2 linked regions of the Homo sapiens genome follow. The gene in region 2 interacts genetically with the main gene of each other region. Each region holds a gene or a part of one and is shown on either strand. Other genes may lie near its edges.

The links. A genetic interaction does not mean that the proteins touch.
Region 1: changes in DNA2 (region 2) and CTNNBL1 together harm fitness less than expected from each alone (positive genetic interaction), as found in Homo sapiens cells (one large-scale study listed by BioGRID).

The regions. Positions count from the first base shown.
Region 1 is NC_000020.11:37,777,113-37,781,352, reverse strand, and holds part of CTNNBL1 (beta-catenin-like protein 1), read right to left. Parts: intron 4,009-4,240; coding exon 3,936-4,008; intron 3,700-3,935; coding exon 3,641-3,699; intron 2,167-3,640; coding exon 2,018-2,166; intron 1-2,017. UniProt on the Homo sapiens protein: Component of the PRP19-CDC5L complex that forms an integral part of the spliceosome and is required for activating pre-mRNA splicing.
Region 2 is NC_000010.11:68,413,564-68,416,768, forward strand, and holds the end of DNA2 (DNA replication ATP-dependent helicase/nuclease DNA2), read right to left. Parts: coding exon 3,146-3,205; intron 1,545-3,145; coding exon 1,476-1,544; 3' UTR 501-1,475; downstream 1-500. UniProt on the Homo sapiens protein: Key enzyme involved in DNA replication and DNA repair in nucleus and mitochondrion.

The DNA of each region.
Region 1 (4,240 bases), on a different chromosome or scaffold from region 2:
ACTTCATATTTGCACTCAACCAACCAAAGACACTGGCAATTCAGACCTTTAAGAAGCTTAAGGAAAAGTCCCTTCAGAACATTGTGTTAAGGTTAGAAGATCCAAGAAGCCAAATGTATCTTCTATTTATGCTATTTACTTGAGAGAAGGTGGGTCATTTCAACAAAAGGACAAGCAATTAGAAGGGTAAGGGAGATAAACAAAAGACTCAAGAGAGTAAAGCTAGCAAAAATCAGCTAAACACAAAAGGCCTCTGAGTAATTTCTCATGCTCCTCTCTGCATTTTTTTAAAAATTGTTTTTAAAAGCAATTCCTCAAAGGAAGACTTTTGGTCAATGCAAGGTCTGGTACACACTGGACAAATGAAGAGGTCTACTGTGCCTCCAGCCCCCCAGAAGCCTTTTAAAGATAATATATTTTAGAAATATACACAGTAAGTCATCACTTAACATCATAGATAGACTTGGAAATGGCAACTTTAAGTAAAACGGGATATAGGAGGTCAGATCCTCAAATAACACCGTTATAACAATGATCAGAAAAACTGGTTTCATTATACATCATTTCGCTTAAAGTTATGGTTTCCAAGAATGTTACTGATGATGTTAAGTGAGGACTTACTGTACCTGGATAATCCTAACATCATTTTAAACACAAAAATGGTCACTGTAGAATTTGTTATAACGGCAAAACATTGGAAATATCCTCAATGCCAACAACAGAAGAATACTAAGTAAGCTACAGTCCCTTAGAGGCCATGATGCAGTTACTGAAAACTCTCATGAAGATTATTCACAGCATGGGAAACAGCATCTTATGTCTGAAATGTAGCAATACAGAAAATCCTATGTGTGGCAGGCTTAAAAAGTTGTTAAAAATTATAGAAAAAAAGACTAGAAGAAAATATACACCCAAAGACAGGCTGTGTTTAGCTCACAGAACTGTTTTCCTAACTTTGTGGAGACAGAAATTCTGTCTTAGGTATTTCTGTGTATGCCCAGTACTTAACATAGTACCTTGTCAATGTTTTAATAGCAGTTTTATATGTTAGTATTCTAAATTCTATTTAACAAATATATATCACATTTATGAAAAACCTTTCCAAAGAAATATCTTAGTTCAACAGAACTTTCAGTATACTTGAAGTTTTAAGACAGCAGACTCTGGCTCCATTTCTTTTTTTCTTGTTTTTTTTTTTTTTAAATCTCAACTTGCTCCTCTGTAGGGCACAATTCATAATGACTAGAATCTTCCAACCACATAAACATGCTCGATTTTTTTTTTTAAGTCCCTTGACCCTATACCACAGTCTGGTTATCCCCTCAGCCTTCCCCCACACACTTCTCTACTCCCCTTCCTAGACAGGGTCTCAAGAGTTATCAACATAAGCTTCCTCTCCCCTTTTTGCTTCTAACTTTAGGATTCTATAAAATAACTGTGAAACTAATATAAGATCCACTTTCAGGAATTAGCGTATAAATAATAAGACACACAAGGAAAGTACTATAAATAAAAGTTTCTAGAACTGTCTTGCACGTTTTCATATTTCCTAAGCTAGGCATACAGCACATGTACAACTCATTACTGAATGAGGAGTGAAAAATATGAATGATACGCTGCTTTCAATAAAAATACAAACATATGGCATAGATAGGTCTATGTGATATATACAGAAAATTAGTCCAAGTTTAGAAGTAATGGCTAGATTTCCCCAAAACTAACACACTATGGGAAGGAGAGGAAAAACACCAATGTCCTTCAATGGAGTGGACGTATTAGCAACCACCACAGTAGGGCACAAACAGAACACAATATACTTTTTATTCATCTACTCTAACTTTAGGAAAGACCACATACCTATACAAACACATCCCCCCATGCCTGAAGACTTTACTCTTCAGGGTAAAGTCTAGGAAACCCAACAGAATAAATGATCATAGCTACATGCTCTTGAATTCAGGCTAACAGTGAAAAGTCAGGCAAAAAAGGTGGGAGAACTAGGGCATTCGAAACATACCTGAGCATGAGATTCATCAGCTGAAGACCCTCGCCCTTCAGGAAGCGCTCACGATTGGAACTAAGCATTAGACAGGAGCAGAGGGAATCAAACAGATTCTCCATCATCTCCTGCTCCTCAGCCGTGCTGGGATTGTGTCTTTTAAACACCTGTCAAGCAAAAACAGCACAAAGCACAGAGCTATAAGAGAATGTCTTTTCATGAGCCTCCATCCAACAATTCCTAAAACCTGTGGGTCATAACTCTACGACTGAGGAAACAGAAGCTCACCAAACAAAATTCTCATCAGTTTCCATTTTAGAGAAACTAAATGATTCACATATATTAAATACATGCAAAAAAAAAAGCCAAAACACTCTACTGACCACTGGGTCCATCAGTAATTGACAGTTCCAGGCAAGCAGATTTTTTTAAAAACCAAAACCCAATAAAAAACAAAATCTTTTTATCGTGAAATATAACACAGATACAGAAAAACTCCATAAAGGACATATAAAACTAAATGAAGTGAACACCCCTGAAATCATTATCCAGGATGAGAAACAACTTTGCCAACTCCCCTCAAAGCCCTCCACTTGCCCAACCCAACCATATCTCATTTCTTTCCCTTCTAAAAGCAACCACAATCCAGAGGGCTGAATCGTGGCTCAATATAAGGAAGCATTTCCTGACAACCAAGGCTACTGAATTCCCTCACAGGGGAGCTGGGGCTTTAATTCATGGGAAGGGCTTACAGCATTAGTTTTCTTTTTGCCAGAGATGTAAGGCATGTTAAGAGAAGCCTTTAAACTGTATATGCATACCCATACAGTCTACTACAAGAAGATCAATAATCTCACAGGAAAAGGACTAAGCACCTTCCCAGAACTGGAAACAGATTCACATTTCAAAGCTCTATTTTTGGGGTGGAGGCCAAGACACTCAGGCTGCTGGCACCAAGATGGAAGCTGTATGCAAACTGACATCTCAGACTCTCCCAACACTCTTAAGATTTTATCCAAATGATCTATTTTCAGTCCTGTTTTTAGAATAACACAGCTAAAACTTGTAAGAGGAAATCTTAACAGTATTTTCAGAATGCCAGCAGAATAACATTTCAACTGGATTTACATTTCTTACAGTGAGAAAATGGCAGTTTCCAAGTTCTCACTCCAGCCTTCAGCACCACATCCTCCCCTATCCTCCCCTTGACCCCCACCCCACTGCAGTGGAACTTGTACTCCTTGAGCTTATTCAGATCCTAAATGAACATACTCCATTTTCACAGCAGATTGAAAGGAAGGTTGGTGAATAATCTTGGCAGTGGGTCAAATGAAAATAATTTGGTATGCTTGGCCCAGAACATACACACTTAAGCATGAGGCACATCTTTTTTGAGTTGACAATATCATATCAGAAGATGAAGAAAGTTCAGAACTGATACACAGTGATGTCTGGTCATAAAGAGCAAATGACTAAGAAAAGGAGGCAAACCATGTCCCTCCGTATAACCCTCAAACCTGCCAACATGCTCCATATGGCTTGCAGCACATGGCTTATTCCTTCCCACAGTTTCCAGCTCCACCTCCCATTCAAAGCAGACCATGTATCTTACAGCAGACAGGAAGCATAAGAATTACTCACGGATAACTGCTGAAGAAGCACATCGATTCCATCCAGCTCCCCAAGCAATTCCCTGTTTTCTAAAGGGGAAAAAAATAGAGGAAGAAAAAAAATGAACCTAACTGTCAGATTTTACAGCCGTCTAACACTGATACATCAGCAAACAAAATCAATACAGCTTGACAGAGTACAAAAGCAGCACAGGGAGTGAGAGGGAGAGCAAGGGGATGCCAAAGGCAAGAGAGCTTGCTGTCATGATCTGAAACAAGCCTGGCTCCTATCCTAACAGAATATCAATACTGAGAGGGCGCCTCACCATCATTGTCCTGGAGCAATATGGCCAGCACTTCACTGCAATACAGTTTGTTGGCATCAAAAGGCATCTTTGCCTATGGGGAAATAGGAGAAATGAGAAAAATGTTAAGGGGTCTTGCTTCCTTCCCCAGGACAAATTTTTCACGAGTACTATGATCTGAGTTAGAGAGAAGCAGAAGTTAGAAAAGGAAAAGGCAGTTAAGGGTAAAAACGTCTGCCTCTGCTCTCAAGAGACCAGAACCAAGTAAAGTGACAGATTGAAACAATGGCTCTCACACTCTTAATGCCCAGGTATTAAGGTTACCT
Region 2 (3,205 bases):
TTTGTCCTATCTAATCTATAACCCCTCTCCATGATCAAGCCCATCCTGTGTGCCCTTCATAAATCTCTTTATAATATCAATGCTGCTTGGTTTCAGCTTTCTAGCATGATCAATACTTCACTTGTCACTATCAGAAAACATGCGGCCGGGCGCGGTGGCTCACGCCTGTAATCCCAGCACTTTGGGAGGCCGAGGTGGGTGGATCACGAGGTCAGGAGATGGAGACCATCCTGGCTAACATGGTGAAACCCCGTCTCTACTAAAAATACAAAAAAAAAAATTAGCTAGGCGTGGTGGCGGGCACCTGTAGTCCCAGCTACTCGGGAGGCTGAGGTAGGAGAATGGCGTGAACCCGGGAGGCAGAGCTTGCAGTGAGCCAAGATCGCACCACTGCACTCCAGCCTGGGCGACTCCGTCTCAAAAAAAAAAAAAACAAAACATGCTAGATAACCCTGAGTTTAATTATTATTCAGTATTAATAATAATTGACACAGTTAAGATCCATTAGTAGAAAAAATTTATTAAATAAAAAACTTCAAGTAATAATTTAAAAAAACACATGAGGTAGAAATAAAAATTTTAACATATTTAACACTCATTAAAAAAAACCCTCAAGAGAAATGGAAGATTTCCAAGCCCCAGAAGAATCTGTTACCCCAAGAATCTTTTAACCTTTGTTAAAATCTGTTACTTTTTATATATATAATATAATCACTTTGAGACAATTTTGTTTTACAAAACATCTTTACACAAAAAAGGGAAAACTGAGTGATACCCCCAAACATAGGGGCATATGAACATATGTGAAAATAGGAATCAACTTTTTAAATTTATTATCAATTCAGAAAACAAAATTTGTTGCAAAAGATGATGTAAGAATTATTTTCTTTTATATCAAAATCTACTCTAGAATACTGAAATACTGAATACTGAAAACAAAAAAGGAGGATAGTAAGGGAGGATAGAAAATTAACAGGAAGTAATCAATTCATGTCATAAAAGACTAGGTTTAGAGTGAAAACACATCTGATAGCAGAAAAAATCCTAGCAAAATGGGCTTTGGATTAGGGACCTCAAAATACAGAAAAGAATCACACTTATGTTCTCATCATCACAAGACTGTGCTTAAATGATGAAAACAAATCAAATCCCTTTATTCAGTCTTTCAAATAAAGTTCTTACAATGATATCTACAAAATCAAATTAGTCCTGAAATGTCTGACTTAAAAGTTTAAAGCTCAAAGTCAAAAGTTAATCCATCTTCAAAGCTGGTAAAAATTTATCAAACTCTTTCTCTAGGTTAGGCAAAAATGCATGCATAGAACCCATAAATTCAGACTTTTCACAGTTTTCGGTACACCTGTGCTTTAAAACATAAATACTGCATTAAATTTTGTATGGTGATAGAATTTTCTGTATGGGCACTAGCTAGAGGAGATACTGCCCTAGTATGAAAAGGCAAGGGAAATAGTGTTTTATTCTCTTTGAAAGTCACCCAATATGTGGCAAAGACTTTCATGTTCTCTTGATGGAAGATCAATGATGTAAAATAAATTAAGGAAGAAATATTTAGCACAATATGGAATGGCATAAATTTATGACATTATTATTTAACATTTTGTAATTTGACTTACAGGACCACAAAAAAAAAATAAGGATCTTTATGGCATTCAATGAATAATTATGCCTTTAAGCAACAGGAGTTATTTATCTTTTTTTTTTTTTTTTCTGAGATGGAGTTTCACTCTTGTTACCCAGGCTGGAGTGCAATGGTGCGATCTCAGCTCACCGCAACCTCTGCCTCCTGGGTTCAAGAGATTCTCCTGCCTCAGCCTCCCGAGTAGCTGGGATTACAGGCATGTGCCACCATGCCCGGCTAATTTTGTATTTTTAGTAGAGACAGGGTTTCTCCATGCTGGTCAGGCTGGTCTCGAACTCCCAACCTCAGGTAGTCCGCCTGTCTCAGCCTCCCAAAGTGCTGGGATTACAAGCGTGAGCCACCACGCCCAGCCTCAGAGTTATTTATCTTAGCCTACTTCATACCTTCATAAGAAGTATGAAGTTCTTATGAAGCCTAAGAACTTCATACACTGTTTTTTTTGTTTTGTTTTGTTTTGTTTTTTGAGACGGAGTCTCGCTCTGCCACCAGGCTAGATCTCGGCTCACTACAACCTCCGCCTCCCGGGTGCAAGCGATTCTCCTGCCTCAGCATCATGAGTAGCTGGAACTACAGGCACACGTCACCATGCCCAGCTAATTTTTGTATTTTTAGTAGAGACGGGGTTTCACCATGTTAGCCAGGATGGTCTCAATCTCAACCTCGCAATCCACCTGCTTCAGCCTCCCAAAGTGCTAGGATTACAGGTGTGAGCCACCAGGCCCAGCCCATACACATTTTTAAAAAACGATTTATCTTAAGGCCAGGTGCAGTGGCTCACCTCCTCTCTATTAAAAATTTTAAAAAATTAGCCAAGCGTGGTGGTACGTACCTGTGGTCCCAGATACTCAGAAAGGTAAGGTGGGACGACTATTTGAGTCCAGGTCAAGGCTGTAGTGAGCAGTGATCCTGCCACTACACTCCAGCCTGAGTGAAGTTAGGCACCACTTCTTGGGGGAAAAAAAGGCTGAATGTGGTGGCTGACACCTGTAGTCCCAGCACTTTGGGAGGAGGCGAGTGAATCACTTGAGCCCAGGTGTTCAAAACCAGCCTGGGCAACATGGTGAAACCCTGTCTTTACAAAAAAATACAAAAATTAGCTGGGCATGGTGGAATGCACCTGTGGGCCCAGCTACTGGGGAGGCTGAGGTAGGAAGATCACTTTAGCCTGGGAGATTGAGGGTGCAGTGAGCTCTGATCATATCACTGCACTGCAGCCTGGGTGACAAAGCAAGGCCCTGTATATAAAATAAATAATACTCCATTTTAATCTAATCATTTGTTCTGGATTAAAAAAGGGTTATAGGCTGGGGGCCGTGGCTCACATCTGTAATCACAGCACTTTGGGAGGCCTACACAGGAGGATCGCTTGAGCCCAGGAGTTCAAGACCAGCTTAAGCAACATAGTGAGAGCTTTAATTTAAACAAGCAAATAAATACTCACAACAGTGCAATCAAATGTGACCATATACAGAAGAAAAAGGATATTAATTTTTCTGAGTTTAAATGATTAAGCAGCTTCTCCAAAGGAGGATAGCAATTTAGTGA